Homo sapiens: one gene and its partners. The protein of the gene in region 2 interacts with the protein of the main gene of each other region in a pairwise test. Each region holds a gene or a part of one and is shown on either strand. Other genes may lie near its edges.

The links.
Region 1: the proteins of ARFIP1 (region 2) and ARL1 interact in binary tests that used the Homo sapiens proteins (3 or more experiments, as listed by UniProt).
Region 3: the proteins of ARFIP1 (region 2) and TNFRSF10D interact in binary tests that used the Homo sapiens proteins (3 or more experiments, as listed by UniProt).
Region 4: the proteins of ARFIP1 (region 2) and SMIM5 interact in binary tests that used the Homo sapiens proteins (3 or more experiments, as listed by UniProt).

Annotation. Positions count from the first base shown.
Region 1 is NC_000012.12:101,404,767-101,411,689, reverse strand, and holds the start of ARL1 (ADP-ribosylation factor-like protein 1), read left to right. Parts: upstream 1-3,917; 5' UTR 3,918-4,044; coding exon 4,045-4,048; intron 4,049-5,708; coding exon 5,709-5,846; intron 5,847-6,923. UniProt on the Homo sapiens protein: GTP-binding protein that recruits several effectors, such as golgins, arfaptins and Arf-GEFs to the trans-Golgi network, and modulates their functions at the Golgi complex.
Region 2 is NC_000004.12:152,880,936-152,887,969, reverse strand, and holds part of ARFIP1 (arfaptin-1), read right to left. Parts: intron 7,008-7,034; coding exon 6,786-7,007; intron 5,248-6,785; coding exon 5,090-5,247; intron 1-5,089. UniProt on the Homo sapiens protein: Plays a role in controlling biogenesis of secretory granules at the trans-Golgi network. Mechanistically, binds ARF-GTP at the neck of a growing secretory granule precursor and forms a protective scaffold.
Region 3 is NC_000008.11:23,147,001-23,154,034, forward strand, and holds part of TNFRSF10D (tumor necrosis factor receptor superfamily member 10D precursor), read right to left. Parts: intron 1,552-7,034; coding exon 1,438-1,551; intron 73-1,437; coding exon 1-72. UniProt on the Homo sapiens protein: Receptor for the cytotoxic ligand TRAIL. Contains a truncated death domain and hence is not capable of inducing apoptosis but protects against TRAIL-mediated apoptosis. Reports are contradictory with regards to its ability to induce the NF-kappa-B pathway.
Region 4 is NC_000017.11:75,628,957-75,636,433, reverse strand, and holds the start of SMIM5 (small integral membrane protein 5), read right to left. Parts: upstream 3,001-7,477; 5' UTR 2,976-3,000; coding exon of another isoform or gene 2,496-2,975; 5' UTR 2,401-2,495; coding exon of another isoform or gene 2,232-2,400; exon of another isoform or gene 1-2,231. Other genes in the region: RECQL5 (ATP-dependent DNA helicase Q5), read left to right, coding at 4,766-4,984, 5,185-5,284, 5,424-5,460, 5,597-5,655, 5,742-5,815, 6,157-6,250, 6,592-6,726, 6,959-7,477.

The DNA of each region.
Region 1 (6,923 bases), on a different chromosome or scaffold from region 2:
ATATACAGGAAATGGCAGTTTTGTTATTTTATTTTTCAACACCTTATCATGACCTTTATGCATTTGCGTTCCTATAAAAGTAGGAACCTTGCTGTGGTCATAAACTGAGAGAAGCAGTGGTGGAGGTGGGATGTAATCACCAATAAAGATTAGCTAAGTTTCTCTTGGCTATTTATGACTTTGTTAATTATAAATTTGTCTCAACACTTTTATTCTTTTTTAAAATTTTTTAAAATATGGAACACTTCAATTTGCATGTCATTGTTGTGCAGAGGCCATGCTAATCTTCCTTGTATTCTTCAATTTTAGTGTATGTGCTGCTGAAACAAGCTCTCAATACTTTTTTAAAAAACCTTGAGTATTATGTGTTGATAACTATTCTATTTCATGTGCGTTGGCTCATTAAATCTCTTTATTCAATGTCTCAACACTTTATTTATCCATTTATTAGCAAAAAGGTCTTGCTCTGTTGCCCTAGCTAGATCGTAGTGGCTTGATCATAGCTCACAGCAGCCTCAAACTTCTGGGCTCAAGCAATCCTTCTGCCTCAGCCTCCGAAGTAGCCGGGACCACAGGTGTGTGTCACCAGGCCTGGCTAATTACAAAAATAATTTTCTTTTTTAGATACGGGGTCTCATTATATTGCCCAGCTGGTCTTGAACTGCTGACCTCAATCTATCCTTCCGCCTCAATCCAAAGTGCTAGGATTACAGGCATGAGCCATTGCTCTGGCCTTTGTTTTGTTTTCAATGCCTGTAGGGAATTAGGTCAGTTCTTTACTAACAAAGCAAAGCATTATATGATCAAATTTTGAAAAATGAGAATTTTTGATCAAAATGCCTAATGGGTCTTTTTTAGTCTTTATTACACTGTTATTTCCACAGTGACTTGTAACTAGGTGCTTAATATAGATTCTGAAAGGCTGTCAATACATTTAAATTTGTATATAGTATTTCAGTTTACAAAGCATCGCGATATATATCTCATTTATCTGGTTCAGAATATGTAGTTTGAATACACAATTATATTACAGCACATTTTTCCTTTCAGTTCTATTTTATTTATTTTTTTGAGATGGAGTCTTGCTCTGTCGCCCAGGCTGGAGTGCAGTGGTGCGATCTCAGCTCACTGCAACCTTCGCCTCCCGGGTTCAAGAGATTCTCCTGCCTCAGCCTCCCGAGCAGCTGGCATTACAGGCACCTGCCACCACACCCGGCTAATTTTTGCATTTTTAGTAGAGACAGGGTTTCACCATGTTGGCCGAGCTGGTCTTGAACTCCTGACCTCAGGTGATCCACCCACCTCGGCCTCCCAGAGGGCTGGGATTACAGGCATGAGTCACCGTGCCCCGCCTCAGTTCTCTTTTAAAGGGAATCTGTATTTTCAAGAATTACACACATCATACTCAAATATAAATCTGACATTGACCTAAGTTTGAAGTAGTAATGGCCAAGATCTTTCAAGCAGCAGCAAACTAATCTTGTTTAAGAGGAGGTATTATAGAATCATAAGCACAGAGGTCCAATAATTAGACCACACAGTGCTTACAAAGGATAGCCTTAGAAAGGTTCAGGTGTTTAGGTAGAGCCCTTCTCCCCTTCTCAAACCATTAACAAAAATAAAAATAAACAAAACAAAACTTTTCCTTGCAGGAAAATTTCCGTGAACCTGTGGTTTTGGGGGCAAGGATGAGAGCAAGAGGCAAAAACTAGTTCAGAACCTAGACAACTAGTGGAGTCTGCAAACAAATCAAAACCAAGATAGGCATGGTTGGTGAGCATGTAAATTGGTATAGCCACTATGGAAGGCAGTATGGAGGCTCCTCAAAAAATTAAAAATAGAACTACAGTATAAACCATATAGTATATACCATATATATCATATATGCATATGTACCATATATACAATATATACGTATATACCATATATTCTGGGTATATATCCAAAGAAAATGAAATCAGTATGTCAAAGAGATATCTGCATCACCATGCTCATTGCAGCATTATTCATAATAGCCAAAGTATGGAATCACCTAAGAGTGAACTGATGGATAAAGAAAACGTGAAATGTAAAAATGTGGTATATGTATGTATATTTATATATATAATGAATACTATGCAGCCTTTAAAAAGAAGAAAATCCTGTCATTTGTGACAACATGGGTGAATTTATGCTAAGGGAAATAAGCTAGGCACAGAAACACAAATACTTCATGATCCCACTTATATGTAGAGTCAAAAAAAGTGGAACTCATAGAATGAGAGCAGAATAATGGCGGGATCTTGGCTCACTGCAACCTCTGCCTCCCAGGCTCAAGTGATCCTCCCATCTCAGCCTCTCAAGTAGCTGGGACTACAAGTGCCACTGTGCCTGGCTAATTTTTTTATTTTTTTGTAGAGATGGGGTCTCACTATGTTGCCTAGGCTGGACTCCAACTCCTGGGCTCAAGGGATCTGCCCGCCTCGGCCTCCCAAAGAGCTGGGATTACAGGCCTGAGCCACGACACCTGGCCGACCTTAAATATTCTTAGCACAAAATAAACATATACACACAAGCACACACGACTATGTGAGGTGATGGGTATGTTATCATTTCACAACATATACAACTATGAAAACATCACATGGTACACTGTAAATATATACAATTTTTATTTAAAGCTAGAAAAATTCTTTTAAAATAAACTAAAAAGGCAGTCCATAAGCTTCTGTTGAATGGATGAAAATCTCTACCATAAATAAAAACATAATATGCAAAGGTATTAATAAGATTTGGAAGAAAACCTAAGAGAGTATTAACAGTAGTGACTACTGGGGATCACCGAGATACAGGGTATTAGGGATGGAAGGTTTACTTTTCTCTTTTTTTTTTTGAGACGGAGTGTCGCTCTGTCGCCCAGGCTGGAGTGCAGTGGCACGATCTCGACTCACTGCAACTTCTGCCTCCTGAGTTCAAGTGATTCTCCTGCCTCAGCCTCCTGAGTAGCTGGGACTACAGGCGCCCGCCACCACGCCTGGTGAATTTTCTGTATTTTTAGTAGAGACGGGGTTTCACCGTGTTAGCCACGATGGTCTCGATCTCCTGACCTCGTGATCCGCCCGCCTCGGCCTCCCAAAGTGCTGGGATTACAGGCGTGAGCCACCGCGCCCGGCCGGAAGGTTCACTTTTCAATGGATCTTTGGGAAGTTTCAAAACATACATGCTCAACCTTTAAAAATTTCTCTAGGGGAAATCCCTTCTCCACATCCTATAGGTGTGCTTCCTTCTTCCTCTCCACACACTTCACTATCAAAACCTACATTACTTCCAACAGTCGACCCTCGAGGGAATAAGTCCCTGGTCCCCACGATCGGGACCAGCCAGTCCACACTGCCGACCCCTGAAAGGCGGTCTCAGCTGCTCGGTCAGCGAGAAAAAAAGCCGGCGAGGTCCTCGTCCTGCAGGCCACAGCGAAGACAAAAACCTCTGGTTACTGGCCTCAGGTGCAAGGCTGCTCCGCATTGGCAGCGCGGTACCATTCCTATTATTATTACGTAGTCTTGTTTCTTTCTGGGAGAAAGCACCTAGGGAGAGTTGGGCTGGCCCCGCAGGGCGCTCCGGGACACGCGTCCTCTGCAACGCCGCAGCCTGCGCCAGCGTTCGACCGGGACGACTCATCGAGGCCCGACTCGCATTTTCAGTTGTCAGATTCGCCACTTTTTGGTGTCAGAATTTAAAACAAAAATTCCAATTTCTCTATTTCAGAAGCTCTTTCTGTCCAGAAAAACACAAGCAGGAGAGACTTCAGGTTTTTGAATTATTCGTCTCTTCTGGCCTCCACGGTATCTACATCCAGTGAGCGGGGACCGTGAGTCGAAAGCGACGACGCGGATGCTCAGGCCACCGTTCCCGGCGCGCAGTCGCAGCTGACCCTCGCTCCCGCCCCCGCCTGGAGTCCGACGTGGAAGTTGCTGGCTGACTGGGCTTGCGAGGAAACCGCCTCGGAGCTGCAGCCGAAGGCCAAGGAATCACTGAAGATCGGCGAGGGAGGACAGGGGGTTCATCATGGGTGAGGGGTTCGAGAAGGGCACCTGGGCGCGCTCGAGGGAGCCGCGGCCGAGGGCTGGGGTGCAGAGGAGGAGAGGGGCCGGCCAGGATACCCTAGAGTAGCCAGCTCCTCAGGGGGCGGGTCGCGGAGGACTTGACTCACTTTGGATCTTCATCTGTAGGGGTGGATCCGGCCTCTCGCGTTCTCCTCCGTCCTCTCTCGGTTCCCCTTGATTCCTGCGGGGTCCAGGGACCCGGACAGCTTGGGGACGTCCGCAGAGCCTGGGTTCGAGTTCTTTACCCTTATCATGAAGTTTTCCCTCATCCCCAGCTCCACTTGCTGGGCAGAGTTGTTCTTGCGGAGGCTGGCAACGCGTCAGTCGCAGGTTCGCCGAGGTTTCTTGGTGAAAGATGAGCTGCGGCCCCAGAGTGGAAGCTTAATCATTCTCTTTACCAGGGGCGCTGGGACGGCGTCAGTTTGAAAAACCTGAGAGCAGGTGTTGCTTATGTTGTTTTATGGCCAGTTTGGCATTTGTCTGCTAATCTGCTGTAGCGTTTCATGTAATAATACGGGTATTTCTAGTCGGCAAATGAAACTTTATTCTTGGTTCTTGGCCCGCTGATTGAGGGAACTGCATTCTCACAAGCATCAGGTAACACCCTCGCCCCGCTAGAACCCAAGTGAGGGTGCACATTCTTTAACTCGTTTCTCACCCTCCAAATGAAGGTGCAGATTCTTTGGCTTGGTTAAATCCCTCCACAGTTTTCTGGGGAGCATACTTCTTGCTCCCAAGCATCACAGGCGCTGTCCTGTCTTCCATAACCGCCTTCAGTTTTGTTCCGCCTCTCTTCTACCTGTAAATGGTAGAAAGGACTTTGTCAAGTCACACCTATTCTGTTGAACTTTCCCAAGGTTCTCTAGCCCATGGTGTTGTTCATTTTTCAACTCGCAGCTCTTAGTTATGCCATGTCTTTGCCAAATAACAGTGTGGCATCACTTCTGATGTTAACTATTTTTTTTTGTATTAATGTAACTTGTTTTTAATCTTCTCTAATGGCTCTGGATGGGAAAAGGACTGTGCTTTTTATCCTACACAATACTTGGTGTACAGGAAGCTTTCTGGGAATATTTTGTGATGCATTGGATAGAGCTTTATTATTTTTAAAAGTGGGTTTTTTGTCAAAAATAGTTATTGTTTTCAGCTTTTTTCTCAATTTCTTGTACTAGCTATATTGCTTCGTGGAGAACTCTGATTGAAGTTGGTTATAGTGGTACTGCTGCTGTACAGTACTTTTCCTGTGCGAGGATTACATTGTCCCACTATCCTCCTTACTGGCCCCTTGGTTTTTAGGGGTAGTGAGGGGATCATGCTAAAATATTCCTATTCTGCTGATTAGAAAATGAGATTCCCAAAGGCCGCGGCCATATTTCTCTTATTATTTGGTTTATCTTCTGTGCCTGCATGACACAATAGTAACATAACTAAGGACATAGTAACATAACTAATTACTTGTTTGATATTGAATAATATATTTCATTGGGAGGAAAAATATGCACCTACGCATCCAGGAAATTATAATATTTAATTTGGTATTTAGCTCTCAAAGGACAAGGTTAGATGTTTTGTATACCTAGTTCACAAAATGACATTGTGTATGTTTTTTCTTTTATTATTTTTTAGGTGGCTTTTTCTCAAGTATATTTTCCAGTCTGTTTGGAACTCGGGAAATGAGAATTTTAATTTTGGGATTAGATGGAGCAGGAAAAACCACAATTTTGTACAGATTACAAGTGGGAGAAGTTGTTACTACTATACCTAGTAAGTGTTGGTATGATGAGCTAATTGTAGGGACTTTCTGGTCTCCATCCAACATAACTATTTCTTTCTTTCTTTTTTGTTTGTTTTAGTAGAGATCAGGTATCATCACTATGTTGTCCAAGCTGGTCTTAGACTCTTGGCCTCAAGTGATCCTCCTGCCTTGGCCTCCCAAAGTGCTGGGATTACAGGCATGAGCCACTATGCCAGGCCTATTTCTGAATAAATTAATTCATATAATAAAGTATTTGATAAAGTTTGTAAACTGCTAGTATGAACATAACATTGATAACACTTTTTCCATCAACTAAGAGGCAGCTTAGTGTAATTTAAGGACCCTTGTTCTGGTTTACGGCCGGGTTGGGCTGTTTATAGGTTTAAGTTACTAAATCTTACTGAGAGCCAGTATCTTTACTAATAAAATACATAAGATAACAAATACCCACTGGTTTTCAGGGGGAAATAAACAAAGTAGGTAAAAGTACCTTTTAAATCTGTGTAAAGAATTATATAAATGTTAAGTGATGTTACATGTGAAGTGCCTTTTTTTCCTGTATTTGTTACTATTTTAATTAAGATTAGTTTATCTTAGGTAATTATATTGATTACTTTTAAAGATCTGAGTTGCAGAGACTGAGTGTTGAAGTAATTTGGTACCTTAAAAATATCAAGAGAAGGCCGGGCACAGGAGCTCACGCCTGTAATGGCAGCACTTTGGGAGGCCAAGGCGGGTGGATCACCTGAGGTCGGGAGTTGGAGACCAGCCCAACCAACATGGAGAAACCCCATCTCTACTAAAAATACAAAATTAGCCAGGCGTGGTGGTGCATGCCTGTAATCCCAACTACTCGGAAGGCTGAGGCAGGAGAATCGCTTGAACCTGGGAGGCAGAGGTTGTGGCAGGCCAAGATTGCACCATTGCACTCCAGCCTGGGCAACAAGAGCAAAACTAGGTCTCAAAATATATATGTGTATATGTATATATTTATTAAGAGAAGAAATACCTCAATTTTAATCAATTATTACTGTCTTACAAAAATATTCTCCAACAGTCTTACTGACTATATGAGAATACTGTTG
Region 2 (7,034 bases):
CAAAGAGCTATTTAAATAAGAACAAAGCTGCTGGTTAATCTCATTAACTATTTCTCTCAAAGCACAGTATTAACTGACAAGTAAAATTTCCAAAATCTAAAAACCAGTTAAAAAAAATAAATGTCAAAACAAGATCAAGGGTAGAATAAATACCCCAAGTGAATTGCTTAGTACTGATTAGGCAAAGCAGGTAAGGACAGCAGACTCTAGAATGGCATACTAAAACTAACGGAAGTGTAAATGGTTCTGAAAAAAGTCTGGGTTAGCAATGCACAACAAAAATGTAATGTGAGTAACACATGTAATTTAAAATTTTCTAGTAGTTACAATGAAATAATAATTAATTTCACCTGTTATCAATATATTTCATTTTACCCAATATATCTAAAATATTAATCATTGTGGCATGTAATCAATGTAACAGAATTATTCATAGGTACTTTACATTTGGAGAGTGGGTAGTGAGTCTTTGAAATCCACTGTGTATTTTACACTTCTATCCCATCTCAATTCAGACTAGCCACATTTCAAGTGCTCACCAGACATGTGTGGCTACTATACTTGACAACACAACTCTAGATGAATTTCTGTAACATCAGTATTCAGAATGTAACAACAGTATCTATTGTAGAGCACTTACCATCCTGTGTTCTGTAAGATGCCTCACTCTGATATTCTCCCCCCATCAACTCAAATAGTTACCCCACCACTGTCATCACTCCAAGATCCCATAACTCCTCATAATAGCTCTATCACAGTGCCTGTCTAAGTATAGTACTATCTTGCTTATTAAACAGTGATTTATCCAGCAGCTTCAACTATTCGGTACTCAGCAAAGAAGAAGCAAAGTGACCTCTAATTTAGTCAAGATCAGAATCACAAAGCTTATACCCTAAAACTAAAGCTCTTTATTTGGAGATATTAGGTGTATAATTCACATCTCCTATTCTGGGAATTAACAATACTTTAAATAACATAATCTATATTGTATATATGACTTGAGAAAGAATACATCAGTCCTTCACACTGATCCTAATTTATTCTTAACTCATACTGAATTTAGCAGTATGAGTTAAGATTTAATTTAATTGGCCTCTTTCAGGGTCAAAAGAGAACCATTCATTCATTCACTGATACACTGATTCATTCAACAATTCTCAAGTGAGCACTTTCCACGTTCCAGGCACTGTGTTAGAAAGTAGAGCTATAAAGATGAACAGATATGTTTATCCTCAAGAAGCTCGCATTCTAGAGGAAGAGAACCTTGTAAACAATTACAACAAAATGAGATAATAAGAACTACCATAAATGAGGGTAAGGTATAATGGAAATCAAGAGGAATAATTATTTAATTAGATATCTGAAAAGGTATCTCAGACAGAATTAAAATACTATAATTAAAATTTGAAGGATGGTAAAAGCTGGCTAGGTGAATTGGGATACAGAAATCAGTAGGATACTCTGATTCTGAAGAGAATAGCATGGACAAAGGCATAGATTTGTAAGATACAATGACACATTTGGGAATTCGGTATGTCAGAATCTGAAGCTGGAACATGACAATGGAAGGAATTAACATTAGACAGGCAGGCAGGATTGAAAGTAAGCAGCCCTACAGGCCATGTTAAAGTGTTTAAATTTAATCCAGTAGGAGAAGTAATGGGAAGCCACTGAAGAATGTTGATCTGACATAAAAATGACATGATTGTATCAGGATAGAAAGATGACCCTGGTGGTAGTGTAAGAGATGGAGGATAGAATAAATGATTAAAAAATCAGGAGCAAGGAAACCTATTAGAAAACGATGGACATATAAGAAATGAGTCACTGAATCAGGACAAAGGCATTGGAGCTAAGGAGACAAATACAAAAGATTTAGGAGGCAAGACTGACTTGGCAATAATAACTAGTTAGTTAAATCCATGGGTTCAGGAGCCAAGCTGAATGACCTCTCTGCCTTTTGGCTCTATTCTTGAGCTGGTTATTTCATCTCTTTGTGCTCCAGTTTTTCAATCTATAAATGTGAACAAAAATCTCCACAAAAACTTCATATAGATAAAACACACAGGATACCTGGTAATAACTGATACCTTTAGAATGCTTATTATTATGGCCAAATTAGAAGAGGGGTATCTAGAAGCAAGCACACTAAAAACAATAGGAAATAAAAGAGAAAAAAGTAGAACTAAATAAATAGTAATACATGGTGATTTAATCTAAGGACAAATATCCTTCAATAGCCTTGGAGCGCATTTCTAAACAACAGTGATTAACTCAAACATATTCAAAGTTATAATACTGACCTTATATTTCTTAATTTTACATTCAGAGTTTGTAGGTGGTACCAAAGTAAAACTTTCCATAATAGCTTCTCTAACAGTGCTCATTACCACCAAGAAGAGAAGCTCACTAAGTTTTCAAAAAGCAACTTCACTTCAAGGTTGCCCGTCTGAACTGAGTCCGTATCAACAAAGTTAGTGACGGTTACTTTATGGCTTATGTAAAACTTCTAGAGAACAGGTGTCCACATCTGAAAAGTCTCGACCACAATTGACTCCCTTGTTGGTGCTGCTGTGGAGAAGTGTTGAATGGGCTGTTACAAGATTTTCTATACATGAAGCACCAGAGGGCTAGGAAATACTTGTACACAATGCATAATAGGGAGGATTAAAAGGCCACTCGGGCATTTGCCTAAATTACCACTTTTTGCACTGATCAAATAGATGACCCTTGCCCTAAAAGTCAGTAAATTCTGGCTTTGACAGAGAAGGAAATTCAGCTACTGAAAAACTTTTAACCTTGGATTCTTTTTGACTATTATCCATCAGTAGGCAAGGTTTTAGTGTTAACAACTAGCCAATTCCACAGCTATTTCATAAACAACAGAAAAGTCAAACCCCAAGCTAAGCTTAATGAATAAGATCATACATTGTAATTTGAATAAAAAAGGATAAATTACGGGATGACATAAAACAAAAACAACATTACTGTTGTTGTTTTTTAAAGTACACACAGAGGCTGTGTAAGGGTTTCCCTTAAGAAACCAGCCACCAAGTACATGTAACTTGATTTATAATTTTGTTCAAAAGTTCCAAATGAACCTATATACTGTATTTTATAATCTGAGATCTTATACCACATTATACTTAGGGCACTAATACTCAGGTATAAGGCCTACTGATAAAATGTGAACCATAGAGAACCAATGGGTTCTTATTTTGCCTTTGAAATTGACTACAAGTGAGCAAACCATTTAACCTCTAGAGTGTTTTCTCCTCTACAAATTAATTATAAACTGTTTAGAAATAAAAGCTGAAGGGAAAGAGATTATTATTAACGAAAATATATTTCAGGATAGGTAGACAATTGCAAAGTAGAGAAACTAGATTCACAAAGTTCTCAACTAGGAGGTGGTGGGGGTATTTTTGGAAGAAAACAATATCCATCTTTAAAACCCATACATGTTAAAACAATCAGAAGGACTAGAAAATATGAATATTTAAAATGATTAGAGATAAAAGAAACAGTACCATTATGAACAAATTAGGACATTATGAACAAGGAACAGAAAAATTTAGAAAAGGATCAAGTAAAACTTATATAAATGAATTTTAAAATTCATATACATAATGAACCCTTTGAAAAATATAATTTCCATGAAAGGATTTACACTGAGACTGAAACACCAATTACTGAGAATGTTATTGAAGAGATTTCCACGGAAGGCTATCTTACTAACAGCTATCCTCACCCTTACCCCTCCATACAACCACAGCTGTTTGACCTTCATTTTCAAGTCAATAAGAATCTCATACTTTAATACTAAATGGAAAATGACAAAATAAACATGGTATGGGACAGAAGCATCTCTTCCTGTGAAAACATCAAAAATTAACTTTTCAAAATGATTTGGGCTTTTACTTAATTGAAGTGTAAGGAAATATATATTTAATAAGCACTCAATTGCAAAAATACTAGATGAGTTTGGAGTTTTTTACAGGTATTTCTCATACCATTAAACTAGGATAAGAGGCCAAAGAGTAAAGTTATCCTTCTAAAAGGTAAAGTTTATCTTCAACTATGCATAAAAAGTATAATGGAAAATAAGAATTTTGAGTGCTCAAAAGAAAAAAACCTCAAAAGGGACTAGAATGATACTTAAATAAAAGGGGTAGGGCATATGGGGAAAAAATTGGGCCTGGAATCAAAAGGTGAAAAAGGCTATTATAGGTCTGCCATATTTTAGACCCTTCAAAATATTTATTAATATATTTATTAATATATATTTTGTTCACCATTTAACAGGATAGTTATGAGACAGGGAAACTGTATATATACATATATATATGAATATGGATATACAAAAACCCATTAAAATAGGATGTATAAAAACACTGCATTATGAACAGTTATCAAAATACAAGTCAAATATTTAATTTATATAAAAGGTAAAATTTGAAAGGGTTTGAAGGCTTGTTATAATCTGGATAAATGGAAGATGACTGATATCCTAACAAACAAAAATCATGGAGGCAAAATGAGCTTATTTATTCAATAGAAACTGAAAGTATGGGTCTGGCTATTGTGGAAGCAGTGGTAATAAGGATGAAAGGTAAATTTAGGCGAGAGTATAGAGGACCATGTAATACCTACCTGGTAGAACATAGGGCCCTGTCCTCTTCTAAAGAAGCCAGAGCTGGGAGATCCTCCATTTCCCTACTCACTAGAAGGCAGGGTTTGGGCACATGACCAAGGCTCAATTAGATAATCTCAAGGCAATGAAGCAAGTATTCATGGGTATTTAGGAAATTATTTATGGTAGCTGTGGCAGCATCAAGTACTAGAGGCACCCAGCATAGGGGTTCTAATTAGATTCTTCTGAGGCTTAACTTGGCTTTGGTTCTTGGTTGTTTCCAGAATCTTGTTCTCTCCCTTTCTGCCAGGTCTGTAGAGGCATCCTATAACTTTCCAGTACATTTTTTTCCTGCCCATATTGGCCAGAGTTGGTTTCTGTTGTTTGTAACCAAAAAATTAACTGAATTATATGCCATCTGTAAAACAGACAACACAGTGAAAATGTATACCTTACCTGGCACTTTCATACTGTTTCACAGTCATTAATGTATCTTCAATGGTTTTATTCACCAAAGTGTTCACACTAGCAATGAAAAAATTAATGGCCCCAAGAAGAGTCTCTCCATTTTTAGCCAGCAGTTTCTGGGTATCGGCATTATAGCCAAATTCTTCCTAAAACAAAGAAGTCACCTTAATTTATTCAGTAATAAATCAGTAAAAGTGACTTAAAAATCTCAAGCACGTCACTAATGGGAAAATATGTGATTTAGATAGAGATCTAGCTGTAGCAGTTTTACTTTTCCTTTCCGTCTTTAAGAATCGAAATCACAGCTAGCCATATAATTACTGAAAAAGTCTAATAAACCAAAATTGTCATCAGCTCAGATACATACCTAAAAGCTAAATAATTTTTTTAAGTTACTTTGTAGTAGAAACAATATTTTCATTTCTACATTTTGTTTCTATTATACTATAAGCACAGCTGTTGGAAAGAAAAATAGAGCAGATTATTAATCAGAGAAACTATAACTTTCACAGCCAAATTAGGTAATAATTGGTTAAAACTTTCAGACATAAAACAAAGTGCATTTTTTTTGTGTTTTGACTGATTCTCCTCAAAGTATAAATATTAACAATACATATTTCTTTGTAAACTTGGTGACTAGCTGACTCCCAAGCTCAGCTCTATTTAGGCACACAACTGAGGAAGGATCACTCAACACCAGCTTTAGTTCATTCTTTTTGAATAAACTGCATCTTGGTGCAGTAAACATTACACATGACTCCTTCAGATATGGCAAGAACTAACTCTAGCTCTGTATATTCAGCAGTGAAAGCTTTCCAGTGCAAGTTTTACTAATTAACAGATTAATCAGGATGCACCTAACCAAATAAAAAACCGATCACATATTCTAAGATGTATCATTTAATTTGATAATTCTCCAGTTTGTTACAAAACACTTTTCAATTTCAGTTGAAACAAATAATGTAATATTAAATTAACTAAAATATTAGAAGATACAAATTTAATGCTATTGCAATAGCTGTAATTACGTTTCTTAGGTGACAAAGTATTCAATAATTCAGAAAATAGCAGGAAAGTAAAATTATCCTTATTATGCTAAAACCATTTTCCATTTAAGAGATGTCCATGTAACTCCACTCTGTACTCAGTCTTCAAAATATTATAGACCTTGATTTGTTGCAAATATTGGCAGATAAAGGACCACATAAAAAGATTACCAATCAATGCATGTAAAAACTAAAATGAAAAGCAGGACAGCTTAAGATTTTTGGCACCAAATTTCCACAAGCTAAGTTACACACTTCACTGAAGTCTACATAAATGTTACTGGAAATAGAATAATACAGAAAACAACATTTTTACAACTTTTAGAAAAAGTTAACAGAACATATTACAACAGTAACCCTTGATATTGATTAAGGAGTAAAAGGCAAAATAAAATATTAACAAACAGGAAGAAAAATATGAAAGATTTATATACATATGATAATTCATAAAAAGTAAAGTTAACAGAAGTCATATCACTTTAAGAGGGCCTTCTTAAAGTGATATGAAATATCTTAAAAGAGAATCTCAGAATTCCATCTTCATTAAGAGTTCAGCAAATCACAATAACAAATTACCTCTTAGAATACTTCTATTATCATTTTCTCCCATCCCTAATAGTTATTTAGAATAATCTTACATGAAGTTCTAGTGACTTCAAACTCAGGTCAGCAAATGCATCTCCAAGTTGCCTTTGGGTATGTACCATCTGGAAAAGCTGGGTCGACAATGTTTGAGCCAGTTTTAAAATATTTTCATATTTTTTCTTGTTATCCCTTAATATATCAATCTGAGCTTCAAGTTCAAGGTCCACAGTTCTTGAGCCACGGCCTAGCTTCTCAGAGATAATCTGTCGAGTACACTAAAAGTGGAAGATGCATTTTGTTTA
Region 3 (7,034 bases), on a different chromosome or scaffold from region 2:
CCTGGAAGCTTCCTTTTTCACACTGACACACGGTGTCTCTGGTCGTGGTACAGGAACTTTTATTTGTTTGACCTGACAACAGAGCATAAGGTTTTGAGAATGTGTTTCCCTGACATGTCTGTCCACCCTTCCTCACCACCCCATCCCCTCCCACTCAGCTCAACTCAGTTCACCAAGGAGTTCTGAGGGCTGGTTTCTGCACCAGCACACTCGGGACTCATACAGGACACCCACCCTGTATGTAAGGACCAATACAAAAGGACCGTGATTCATTATTTATTATATCAGGTTAGGGGAAAAGCATTGTTTAGATGGCATGGTCAGTAGCAAGGGAGGCGCAAGGGCATCACCTGAGAGACTCTGCAAGGAGAGGGGCCCTTGGGGGACTTCCCAAAAGCCCCGGCCTTGCTGGGGAAGAGGAAGGGGCCTGAGAACCTGAAGGCTAAGTGAGGCCAAGCACCTTTCAGGAGCACAGAGCCCGGGAGGAGAGAGCCTGGCCACGGAGCAGACCTGTGCCACTGCTGGAACCCAGCCCTGTCCACTGGGCCAGGCCTCCTCTATGCTGTAATGATGCCCCCACCCGGCTGCAGGCAATAGTTTAGAAGATTTCCCAGCCTGGTGGCATGCATTACAGAAAAGATTTTGGCCAGGCGCAGTGGCTCACACCTGTAATCACAGCACTCTGGGAGGCTGAGGCAAGCGGATCACCTGAGGTCGGGAGTTCGAGACCAGCCTGGCCAACATGGAGAAACCCTGTCTCTACTAAAAACACAAAAAACTGGCTGGGCACGGTGGCTCATGCCTGTAAGCCCAGTACTTTGGGAGGCCGAGGTGGGTGGATCACGAGGTCAGGAGATCGAGACCATCCTGGCTAACACGGTGAAACCCCGTCTCTACTAAAAATACAAAAAAAAATTAGCCGGGTGTGGTGGCGGGCACCTGTAGTCATAGCTACTCAGGAGGCTGAGGCAGGAGAATGGCGTGAACTCAGGAGGCGGAGCTTGCAGTGAGCCGAGATCGCGCCACTGCACTCCAGCCTGGACAACAGAACGAGACTCCGTCTCCCAAAAAAAAAAAAAAAAAAAAAAAATTAGCTGGGTGTGGTGGTGCATGCCTGTGATCCCAGCTACTTAGGAGGCTGAGGTAGAAGAATCACTAAACCTGGGAGGCAGAGGTTGCAGTGAGCCAAGATCATGCCATTGCCCTCAAGCCTCAGCAACAAGAGTGAAACTGTCTTCAAAAAAATAAATAAATAAAAGAAAAGAAAAAAAAGATTTCTATTTTTTTTTTTTAATCAACTAGTCATAATCATGGAACAGGGCATGATGAAGACTACCAAGTTGGGCTAGAACTTGGTTCCCCGACTCACATCGGCTACAGCTCCCACCTCATCACTATGCACTCCACCTCTGGGCAAGGGGTCCACACATTCTGTACCTGATTTACAAACTGTACATAGCAGGCAAGAAGGCAAATTGTTGGAAGCAATGGTGTAATCCACACCCTCTGTGCACGGGTTACAGGCTCCAGTATATTCTGATCTATGAGATCCTGGGAAGGGAGAGAAAAGTTAATGAATGAGTCACCACAGAATTCCCAGAGGCTGACAATGGCTGGCAAATTTCTCTTTTGGCCCTCAGTGGAATCCAGACAGAGAAATCTGCTCTTCTTGGCTTGGTCTTGTCATCAATTCTGCATCTATTACACTATTACATACCTTTGACTGGCACTGCTGACAGAAATATAATACAAATCACATGCAAAATTCAAATTCTATGAAAGCCACATTAAAATAGTACAAAGAATGAGGTCAAATTAATTTTAACTATTTTTTAGCCTAAAAATATCCAAAACACTACATTTCAATATGTAATCAATATAAATATTTGAAATATTTTATCTTTTTTTGGCCAGGCACGGTGGCTCACGCCTGTAATCCCAGTACTTAGGGAGGCCAAGGCGGACGAATCACGAGGTCAGGAGATCGAGACCATCCTGGCTAACACAGTGAAACCCCATCTCTACTAAAAATACAAAAAATTAGCCGGGCGTGGTGGCAGGCACCTGTAATCCTAGCTACTCGGGAGGCTGAGGCAGGAGAATGGCGTGAACCCGGGAGGCAGAGCTTGCAGTGAGCTGAGACTGTGCCACTGAACTCCAGCCTGGGCGACAGAGCAAGACTCTGTCTCAAAAAAAAAAAAAAAAAAGAAAAGAAAAGAAAAGAAATATTTTATCTTTTTTAAAATTTTTTTTGGAGACAGAGTTTCACTCTTGTCACCCAGGCTGGAGGGCAATGGCGCGACCTTGGCTCACTGCAACCTCCACCTCCCAGGTTCAAGCGATTCTCCTGCCTCAGCCTCCTGAGTAGCTGGGATTACAGGCACCCACCACCACGCCCAGCTAATTTTTTGTATTCTTAGTTGACACGGTGTATCATCATATTGGCCAGGCTGGTCTCCAACTCCTGACCTCAGGTGATCCACCCTCCTCGGCTTCCCAAAGTGCTGGGATTACAGGCGTGAGCCACCATGCCACGCCCAGTCTACTTTTTTTTTTTTTTAACAATAAAATAAAATAACAAAATAAAATCCAACCTCATCTACATGTGATCTGCCCATGCTGGTCCACCTGACCTGTTTGCTGTCCACTCACTATGGTGGCCCCGTCTCTGCTCGGTATCCCCCAGCGCCTGCACCCTGGGACTGTCATTCCTAGGGAGGCTGCTCAGGAGCACCATTTCTGGCTCTCTGCACAACTATCCCTGTCCAGCTTTGGAGACTGGCCAAAATCACCATCCCCGAGAGGCCCCACCAACCTCGTCTCTGTCTCACTCATCACTTAATTTCTTCATGGTTCCTATCAGGAATTTCTGACTGTTATTTTGATCTGTGTGTCTTAATACTATCCCAGAGAAAAGGTTCCACGAGGGCAGGGCCTCTTATAATTATCCCATTAGCACGGTGCCTGACTGACAGAAATCATCCAACATGTCCCTATGGAATAAAGAACCAGAAAGTGCAGGAAACAGAAGTCTGGAAACACATAGAGATAAGGGCATGATAAAGGCATGATAAGCTAAGATATCAGTCTTAGCTTGTGCCTTCGGGCTAGCACTACAGACCCAGGATCCTGACCCACCTCCATAGATTCAGCTTCCAGATCTGTCCTAGTGCCAGGTCAGTCCCCATGAACTCAGGCTCCAGGCCCTTCCCTGTGGACCCAAGGATGAGACCCATCACAGCACCTGGCTGACATCTGCAGACCCAAGTACAAGGCCTATTCCAGTGCCAGTTCAGCCCTCATGGAGCCAGGCCTCAGGTCACCTCTCTGGATACTGGCTCTGACCACCCTTGAACCACACCACATGGCCTGCCCAGAATCTGTGAACAGGCTGACTGGTGAAGGGCGTTCCCTGACAAAGCCAGTCTGTAAATACTGGATTAAGTCCCTGCTTCTTCAAAGTGCACATTCCAACATATTGCCACAGGCTCCTGAGCAATCAGGGAACAGTGACGGCACCAAAGAAACAAAATGAAGCACAAGTAACCAACCCGAAAGGAATAGACATTTACAACAGCCTGACAAAGACTTGAAAACAGTCATCTTACAGAAGCTCAGTCAGCTACTAGAGAATATGGATAGACAACTAAGTCATGTCAGGAAAACAATACATGAACAAAATGAGTAGTTTAATATACACAGACAACATAATAAAGAAGAAAGCAGAAATTCTAAAATTAACAACAACACAATATCTGAACTAAGAAAATTCCACAGAGAATGTCAACAGCAGAGTTGATTAATCGGAAGAAAGAATCAGTGAGCTTGAAAACAGATCATTTGAAATTACCAAGTCACAGGAAGAAAAAAAAAATAAAGAATGAAAAAGAGGGAAGAAAGCCAACAGTACCAACGGTTACTGTGAAGCAAAACAATATATGCATTATGGTGGTCCAAGGAGCATCAGAGAAAGTGAAAGGAACAGAAAGTGTAATTAAAGAAATAATTAAAGAAAATGTCCCAAAACAGGATGGGAATGGACATCCACATTCATGAAGCCCAAAAAACCCCTAACAGATAAATATGAAGAGATCTTCACCAAGACACATCTTAAACAAATTCCCAAACATCAAAGGCAAAGAGAATTTTGAAACCAGCAAGAGACAAGCAATGTACAAAGGAACCCCTATAAAACTACCAAAGGCTTCTCAGCAGAAAACCTACAGGCCAGGAGAGAGTGGAATCATACAAAGTACAGAAAGGAAAAATTCCTTGCCAACCAAGAATACTACACCTGGCAAGCCTGTCCTTTAGAAATGCAGAGCAGTAAAGACTTTATCAGACAAAGAAAAAAAAAAACGGGGGGAGTTCATCTTTAGCATGTATTGCCTTACAAGAAATGTTAAAGAGAGTTATTCAATCTGAAAGAACAGAACACTAACTGGATACACAAAACCATGCGAAAATATAAAACTAGGTGGTTAAATACATGGTCAAGTTCAGAATATTCTAATACAATCATAATAGTGTACAAATTACTTACATCATTACTATAAAAGTTAAAAGCCCAATGTATTTTTTTAAATGATACTTAATACAATTTGTTAAGGAATACACAACATAAAAAGACGTAAATAATGACAAAACATAAAATAAGGCAGGAGAAGAAAAGGTGTCAAGTTTTTTATGAGATCAAAGATAAATTGTTATCAGTGTAAAATAAAGTTAGACATGAACCTAACTTACAAATTCAGTAGTGTTTTTATACACTGACAAGAAACTATCTGAAAAATCCCATTTATAATAGCTACAAAAAAAATGCTTAGGAATAAATTTAACCAAGGTGGTGGCTGTATTTTTTTCTAATTTGGTCTTGAGGTTTCTCTCTGTAGAGTGGCTATAAATTCTAGCCTTGCCCTGGGGGGGATCCAGGAGATTTCATCATGGATGTTCACAGGAAACTTATTTGTCCCGGTGGACTGTCTAATGCCTAATTGGGTGTTCATCTTGTACATGTCCCTTCCACAAGACAATTACTTTTACTAGCAGTAGACCTGGTGGCTCTTGTCTGACCTATGTCCAGTTTTAAGTTATCTCTACTCTTTAGGAGACAGCCACTCTTTAAGAGAGCCAAGATGGAGAAGGATGTTAGGTTCAGATGTGTCAATTAGGGAAAACACAGAGGAAGCAACACAACAAAACACAGGAAACACAGAAGTGGTGTATTACTTACAGACTCCAGAGAGAAGAGGATAGCACACTTTGCAGCACTTACGGGAAGTGGGGAGCTATCCAGTCCGAGGACACTAACCGGTGTGTGGGGAGCAAGAGACAGAGAGAGAGGACCCGTGGGACTACACCTTTATAAAGATCCATGGGCATTATACCCCAGGCTTTCCCACAGGGATTGTGGAAGACAACACCTGCAAAGAAGGTTCACACTGCTCTGCTGTGAACCATTAGGTTTTATTGTAGTCAGCTCCTGTGGGATGTGTTGGGTTTGGGGTCAGGGAGATGATGAACAAATGTGCTAGATCAAAAACAATTGAACAGGGAAAGGAATTATTAATTGGGCAAAAGATGCTGTGGTATGATTGGGTTTTAAACAACTTACATTGGGCCTAAAAATGGATGTCAAGGCAGCAACTCTTTTAAATAAATTTGTGACAGAGGTGGAAGATGTGAAAACTGTAAAATATTGATGAAAGAAACGGAAAGTAACAAAAATAAATGGAAAGACAGTACATGTTCATGGATTAGAAAACTCAATATTGCTTAATTGTTCATATGACCCAAAGTGATCTACAGATTCAATGCAATGCCTATTAAAATTCCAATGACATTTTTTACCAAAATAGACAAAATAAATCTAAAATGTGTATGGAACCACAAAAGACCTCAAATAGCCAAAGTGATCTTAAGCAAAACAAACAAAAAGAACAATGATGGAGGCATCATACTACCTGATTCTTAAATATATTACAAAGGTATAGTAATCAAAACTGAATAGTAATGGCATAAACGAAGATAAACTGATGGAATGAAATAGTGAACCCAGATATAAATCAATGCATTTACAGTCAACTGATTGTGACAGATACCAAGAACACAAAATGGGGAAAGGACAGCCTCTTCAATAAATGATGTAGAGGAAAGTAGATATTGACCTGCAGAAGAATGAAATAAGACCCTTATCTCACATCATATGTAAAAATCAACTCAACATGGACTAAAGATTAAACATAAGCCCTGAAATTGTAAAACTACTACAAGAAAACATAGGGGAAAATCTTCATGACGTTGGTGTGGGCATTGATTTCTTGGCTATGACCCCAAAAGCACAGGCAACAAAAGCAAAAATAGACAGATGAGATTATATCAGACTAGAAAGGTTTTGCACAACAAAGGAAACAATGAACAGAGTGACGAGACAACATACAGGATGAGAGATCAATATCCAAAAGATCCAAGATTTTGGTTAACATCCAAAATACACAGGAACTCAAACATCTCAATAGTATGCAATCAAATAATCCAATTAAAACGGACGCATGGGCAAGGGACCTGAAGAGACACTTCTAAAAAGAAGACATAGAAGTGGCCGACAGGTATATGAAAAAAATGCTCAACATCACTAATCAGGGAAATGCAAATCAAAACCACAATGAAATACCACTTCACACCTGTAAAAATGGCTATTACCAAAAAGACAAAAGATAACAAGTGTTGATGATGATGGGGAGAAAAAGGAACACTGGTACACTGTTGGTGGGAATGGAGATTAGTACATCCATTATGGAAAACAGTATGGAGGTTCCTCAAAAAACAAAACATAGAATAACTATATGATCCAGCAATCCCAGTATTGTGTATACATCCAAAGGAAATGACATCAGTATGTTAAAGAGGTATCTTCCCTCCCATGTGCATTGGAGCATTATTTACAATGGTCAAGACATTAATCAACCTAAGTGTCCATCGATGATGAAAAGGTAAAGAAAATGTAGTACATAGACACAATGGAATACTATTCA
Region 4 (7,477 bases), on a different chromosome or scaffold from region 2:
GCAGGAGGAAGGCAGGGAAGCCCAGGAGGGCTACTGATGATCCCATATTTTTCCCGTCTTTCTATCTCAGGTTCACCCAACTCCTTCCAAAACCACACTTCCCACCTGCGAACCAGGGCAACCAGTCCCTCCCAACCCCACGCTTGGTAGTGCCCACCTGCGAACCAGGGCAACCAGAGTCCCTCCCAACCCCACGCTCAGTAGTGCCTTGGTTGGAGGCTTCTCAGGGTCCTCAGGGGTTCCTGAGTGGCTGCCAGAGCAAGTGGTGGCTCCCTCTGGCCTTAAGAGGGAGTGTAGCCCAGCTGCCACCAGGCCCTCCTGCTGCCCAGGCTGCCCAGCCAGCCCTGCTTGGAGCCTTCAGAGGGTGTGCCCTGGCTGCAGTAGCGGTCAGCACAGGGGAAACACTCAGGGCAGAGAAGGCTGGCAGAGCCGGAGGGATGGGAAGCATTCCTTTATGTGGCATCTCCTGGCACACGGAGCCTTGCAACAGGCAGGCATCCCGCAGGCCAGACAGCTGCCACTTGGTCCCGAAGCTTCCCTGTTTCCTCCTCGCAGAGCTGATACTCCAACCCCAGGCGCCTCACGAGGAAGGGCTGGCAGCAGGCGGCGTGTTTGAGACTGATAAGCGAGGTGTGTTGGCAGCGCGGGGCCCCAGAGGGCTGCTTGCTCTGCCCTGTTGTTTCGTCATGGTGGGTTTTAGTCACCCTTGCCCTGTTGGGCATTATCTCGTTTGAGGTCCACCTAGAAGGAGGCATAACTGACACTTGTGGGAGATTTGCAGGGTCCTGTGCCTGAGCAGCCGGGGGGGATGCCCCTATTTGTGGCACTGAGCCTTTGGGTGACTCCCCTTTTTGCCCTGGCTCCAACTGGAAGTAGAAAGTGGTGCTTGAACCCCTGGCAGGCCCTGCTCCTGTAGCCACCCAGGGCGGGAGGAAGCGCTTTCTGCTGCTGGTGTTAGAAACAGTAGGCGCTCTTTCTGCAGCTACAGAAGCTGGCTGTTCATTCACCCTCCGTCCTGGTTCAGGGACTGTGTTGGAGAGACCCTGTCCACTCGTGTCCTGTGGATGCAGGACAGGGATCCCCACCTGCCTGCCTGGGGCGTCTTGTGAGTGACAGCCACTGGGGTCTCCAGGCTCACCGCTGTGCCCCGACCCCGACCTGGCCTGACTCTTCCCTACTGTGCGCCTCCCAACACCGCAGGAGCTTGTCTCCCCAGACACCAGCCCCAGCCGAAGCCCCCAGCCTCTGCTGAGCTGAGAACACTTGGGCTAGTCCTTGGTTTCCACATTTCCCTGGGTCATTGTTTTTGTTTCTCACTAGATGCCAGCTTGTTTGCTTTGAGGAAAACATATGGGGGGTGGTGGCTTTAACGCTGGCTTGAGGACAGGGCGGCAGGAGGAGTAGGCAGCCTCGGCTCACGGGCCCTGCCCAGGAGGGCTGCTCTCAGTGTTCCCCAAAGAACCAAACAGCCGGGTCCTGCTTCCTTAGGGGTGGTGTCATGTCAGCCTGTGCATCACGGTGGCACAGCAGAGGTCCCGGTTGCCAGCGTGGTCCCTCCCAGCCTCACTTCTGTGACCTTCTGCCCACCTGAGCCTGAGTTGAAAGTCAGTCCTCCAGGTTCCTGGTTTGGTGTTCAAGGCTCATCACCAGAGGGAGATCTAGGAGTTTATGGGGTTCTAGATGGGCCCAGGGAGGAGGACCCAGGCTGAGCCGTGAGCTGAGAACACCAGCAGTGAGTGGGCCAAGCCCCTGAAAGGACACAGATGGGCAGAGTCCTGCTGCATCCTGGGGGCGCCGCATGCTGGCTGGGCAGACCCTGCGCTGACCTCGACAGGGCTCTGCCCTAATCCTGGGAAAAAGGGAGGCTCAGCAGGCCGGCAGCCATTCTCTCCCAAGCTGGACAGCCAAATCCCTCTTTTAAGCCCCCTGAATAAAAGAGCTGAAATGAACTTGCAGAATAAGCAGGCCCTCGGGGCCCCTCTGCTGCACAGCAGGCGGAGCAGGAGGCGCTCTGAGCAGAGCCCCCAGCCCTCCCCTAGTGCAGGGTCCCAGCAGCAGGGAGAGTGCAGGTGTGTGCAGGAGGCTGGCTGACTTCCCTGCAGGGAAGCGACCCAGCATGTCCCCGAAGACCTCTCCGTGTTTATGGTAGACTGTGGCCCTTCACCCTGGGGGCAGGGGACCCTTGCTGCTCCCTCCCTGTCCCCCCTTCTTCTGTGGCCATTGCCACTCACCTGGGAGCTCAGGTGTTGGGGGCTGAGCAGCAGTGCCCCAGCGCGGAGCCTCCACGTGCTGTCCTCGTACTTCCTTCGTGGGCGCCGCTGCTCCCCTGGGCGCCTCAGCCCAGCTCCTCTGCTGACAGCCAGCTGCTGTCTCTGCCTGGCTTTTTTGTTGTTGGTCGTCCTGGAGATCCAAGTGTCAAATTACCGTCGCGAGGGGGAGCCCGAGGAAGCCCTGCTTGGGAACTTGTCCTCCAACTTCATGTCCCGGTGCCTCACCTCTGCCCTGAGAGCGCTGCTCAGGGACAAGACAAGCTCCCTCTCTCCTCCTCCTTCCTCCTCCTCTCCCTCTCCCCGACTCCCACGCCGTGGGCTGGGCCTGGGTTGGGAGCTGAAGAAAGAAGTCGGCTCTCTGCCTTCCTGGCCAGGAGGACCCTGGGGAGGCTCCACCTGAGCCTGTGGAGGGGAGTCCTGCAGCGCTCTCAGGTCTGGGGCACCCACCCTGCCCTCAGGAAGGCCACCCCTTCTGTCCCTCTGGCCACTCCCTGGCTGGTCCCTCCCTCTGGCCTCTCTCAGGAACAACAGTAAACAGTGGGGAGCTGGTGGCCCTCTCAAGCTGAGCAGGAGGCTTTGCAACCAGTCCCTGGGGAGGCCCTTGTGCCGCTCAGCATCTGAAGGCGTCTTGGGGGAGAACTTGGAATCCTGAGTGACCTGGGAGTGGCCTGCGCGCCCGGCAAGGCGCCTCATGTTCCTTGTGAGGTGAGGGCCTTCTGCTGGGGCTGTGACCGCACTCCTGGCCCAGCTGTCAGGGCAGGGCTCCAGAGTCCAGGGGCCGGGCCCTGTGACATTTGCCTGGTTGTGCCTCCCAGCAGGCTAGGCTGTGTGGAGAGAAACCGACCCCAGCCCCGCTGTCAATGGAGCTCTTTGAGTCCGAGCACAAAACCCCAGTGAGTCAGGGCCTGAGGAGGGCAGGGGGAGGAAGCCAGCCATGTGGTCACACCACTCGGATGCCAGAGCCTCCCAGAGGCTGGACAGGCGGCCGCTGTGCGGGCGCACGGACTCCTGGGGATGAACCATTTGTTGCATTTACTCATTGGAGCAGAGTGGGGGCAGGAGCGCCCTCTGGTGGCCGCCTCGGCTGTCCCAGCCCAGGTCAGGCTTCAGAGCTGCATTCACTCAGCTAAAAGAAAGTCAGCCAGGCCCTGCTTCCTTACCGGGGTGTTGCAATCAGCCTTGCATCCTTGAGCCTGCGCCTTGGGGTCGCAGCCCCTCAAAGGGCTTCTTGCAGCCGCAGCAGTGCTCACACTGGGAGGAGTTCTAGTTAGAGCAGTTAATGCCAGCTATTCTTGTCCCTGGGATGTGGCACCCCAGACAGCCCTGCCTGTGTTCCAGCATCTCCTCTTGGGCTTCCCTACCCTGTGCCACGTTCCTGGTGGCAGGAATGGCTGTTTATAAGGAGCCTGAGAGAGCTATGGCCCCTCTTGCGGCCTCTGCAGCTGCCCCAAGGGTCGACAGCCACCCCCATGCAGAGGGAACAGAGATGCGACAGAGCCTCGTGGGCCAGCCAGAGGCTGCTCCCTGCTCCCAGCATGGGCAGAGGCCGCTCACCCCAGGAGGGCTGCAGCAGGGTTGAGACAGAGGAAGACGAGAGGAGGACTCCAGGCGAGGCTGCGTCTCCCTGGCTAAAGGCCCCACCTGTGACACCCTCACGGGTTGATGATGGGACATATTACTACACAGCCGTGCCTGCCTTAGCAATGCAAATACGTTTTGAGAAATTTAACTTGTCATTGTGCGGTCACAGAGTATACTTAGGGAAATCAAACAGCAATTCCAGGGAAGAGAAGGAAAAAAATATCAAGCGGCACAGCCTCCTACACACCCAGGCCATGCGCTACAGCTTGTTGCTCCTAGACCACAAACCTGTACATCACGTTACTGTCCTGAGTACCGTATGCAGTTGTAACACAGTGGTATTCACATATCTAAGCACACATAAGCATAGAAAAAGTACAGTAGAAATACAGTGTTAGAATCGTAGGGGACCACCATTGGCTGTGCAGTCATTCCATGGGGCATGACTGTACTGTAATGCACTTCAGACATCACCTCAGCCATCTTCGCTCAGTCCGTGAGGGCTGTGCCTTTCTGCACCATCTTACTGACGGGAATGCATGGGCTTTAGGAGGTGAAGTGTGTCACCCAAAAGACACCCTTCATGGCAGAGCCAGCATCTACATCCCATTGCCAGAGGACAGAGGGGAGGAGCAGAGGAGTAACTGGACAGAGTGGGGTTCACATCCTGCTTCCCGGGAGACCCCCATGTGTTACGTGACCTTGGGAAAGTTGGTTCACCTTATCGTCCTCATCTGTGTAGTGGGGAGAGCCAAACGATGCCTGGTGCAGCTTGGATGAGATGAGGGGTGTGGGGCTCCCGGCATGGTGCCGGACGCGGCAGTGCTCGCTCAGCTAGCGATTCAGGCTCGGGTGAACAGACGCTGGCCGACTGGGCTCTCCGCCCCTCACCTCTGCGGTGCTGCCTGCTCCAGGTGCCGCCATGCCGCCATTGCCAAGTACTTCGGGGATGCGCTGCCTGCCTGCGCCAAAGGCTGCGACCACTGCCAGAACCCCACGGCCGTGCGGAGGCGGCTGGAGGCCTTGGAGCGCAGCAGCAGCTGGAGCAAGACCTGCATCGGGCCCTCCCAGGGGAACGGCTTTGACCCCGAGCTGTATGAGGGAGGCCGCAAGGGCTACGGGGACTTCAGCAGGTAAGGGGCCGAGAAGCCAGGGCTCCAACCCGCTGGAATTGCCTGGCATTCCCTTGGCGCCAGGGCCAGACCAGAGGTGGCACGATGCCGCAATCCCCCCTTGAGCTGGTAGGACATCAGGGACATTGCCGTTCTAGCAGCAGCACACATGGGGAGGGCAGAGCCCAGGCCAGGGCCACTCACGCCTGGCCTGTCCCTAGGTATGACGAAGGTTCTGGAGGCAGCGGGGATGAAGGCAGAGATGAGGCCCACAAGCGGGAGTGGAACCTCTTCTATCAGAAGCAGATGCAGCTGCGCAAGGTGAGGGGAGGCACTCAGTGGCCTGTGTGGGGCCCCTGGTGGCCCCCTGCTCGCACCTCTCAGCCCCTTCTCTGGTGCTGGATGGGACTGTCCTGCGGCAGGGCAGGACGCCTCATGGGTCCTTCATGTTGTCCTCCAGGGCAAAGACCCCAAGATAGAAGAATTTGTACCCCCAGGTCAGTACAGAAATGTTCCTGGAGGCTTGTGGGCTCTTCCCGGGGCATGGAGGGAGGATTCTCATCCGGGCTGTGGGGGACCTCAGAGCGCAGAAGGTGGAGCGAAAGGACCAAGGACCACCCCCCCCCCCCACAGATGAGAACTGTCCCCTGAAAGAGGCTTCTAGCAGGAGGATCCCCAGGCTGACTGTGAAGGTAAGAGACGGGCAGCTCCTCAGCCACCCGCCGGGGCCCTCCCCCAGCCGCGAGGCCATGCGACCAGTCTCACTGTCCTGTGCCAGGCACGGGAGCACTGCCTGCGGCTTCTGGAGGAGGCGCTGAGCAGCAACCGCCAGTCAACACGTACCGCTGATGAGTGAGTTCCACGATCACTGGGCTGAGGAGCACTCCAAGCTCTCGTTCCCTTGGAGACTGCAGGACCCTGTCAACCCTGGCCTGTTTGGGCCACCTCTCCCCAGATTGTACCTCTCCTACTCCAGGGGACTGCCCCTACAACCCCACCAGGGCCAGGCATGGCTACAACTTAGGTGCTACCAGCAGCTGCTGAGGGACAGTAAGCCACAGGGTGCTCAGAGAGCCCTAATCAGAATCCCTGTGCCCAAGGCCTACCCCACCAGGCCTGGAGTCCCGCAAGAGCTCAGCAGGGAGAAGCCCAGGCCCACCTGATACCTTGTGCCTGTTACCTTGCACCCACAGAGCTGACCTCCGGGCCAAGGCCGTGGAGCTGGAACATGAGACATTCCGGAACGCCAAGGTGGCCAACCTCTACAAGGCCAGCGTGCTGAAGAAGGTGGGCCTGGTGCAGGCGGACCCAGGGTCGTTGCAGGGGCCCCTCCATACTCTGACGCAGAAGCTGTCTGCCAGCTCTCTGGGCTCAGGCAGCCCAGAACTCACCCTCCCCAGCCCACCCCAGAGACAGTTTATGGGGGTAGAGCTCCATTCTCCACTGGCTGGACATGTTTCTAGCCAACCCTGTGAGGATGGGAGGCCTAAAACTTGCCCAGTGGTCAGTTGCCTGTGGCCACTGGCCACAGAAACCCACTTGTAGTGCCTAGTAGAAAAGGAGGGCTAGGTGGGGCATGTCAGGAGGAGCTGGCGGGTGCCACAGCCTCCCTGCCTATCCCTGCCCAGGTGGCCGATATCCACAGAGCCTCCAAGGATGGGCAGCCCTATGACATGGGAGGCAGTGCCAAGAGCTGCAGTGCCCAAGCTGAGCCCCCGGAGCCCAATGAGTATGACATTCCACCAGCCTCCCATGTGTACTCGGTGAGCTGTGGCCCAGTGGCCTCCAGACCTGTGACCAGGAAAGGCTTCACTTCCCCTCTGCCCTCAGGGGTGCACCTCTTGCCAAGGCCTGGCTCCCCACCAGGGTCCTGCCTGCCTCTTCCCTCCCACACTCCTGAGAGCCCCGTCCCAATGTGAGTTACTGCTCCAGCCAGCGGTGCCCTCAAGGGGGCCTAGTGGGCTGAACCTCCTCTCCTCCTGCTCACATTTACAGCTCAAACCCAAGCGGGTGGGAGCTGGTTTCCCCAAAGGCTCCTGCCCGTTCCAGACGGCCACGGAACTGATGGAGACAACTCGGATCAGGGAGCAAGCCCCCCAGCCCGAGCGGGGAGGCGAGCACGAGCCCCCGAGCCGGCCCTGTGGCCTCCTGGATGAGGATGGGAGTGAGCCCCTCCCTGGGCCCAGAGGGGAGGTCCCTGGAGGCAGCGCTCACTATGGGGGGCCCTCCCCTGAGAAGAAGGCAAAAAGTTCCTCTGGGGGCAGCTCCCTTGCCAAGGGCCGGGCTAGCAAGAAACAGCAGCTCCTAGCCACAGCGGCCCACAAGGATTCTCAGAGCATCGCCCGCTTCTTCTGCCGAAGGGTGGAAAGCCCAGCTCTGCTGGCATCAGCCCCAGAGGCAGAAGGTGCCTGCCCCTCCTGTGAGGGGGTTCAGGGACCCCCGATGGCCCCAGAGAAGTACACAGGGGAGGAAGATGGAGCCGGGGGACATTCGCCTGCCCCTCCCCAGACTGAG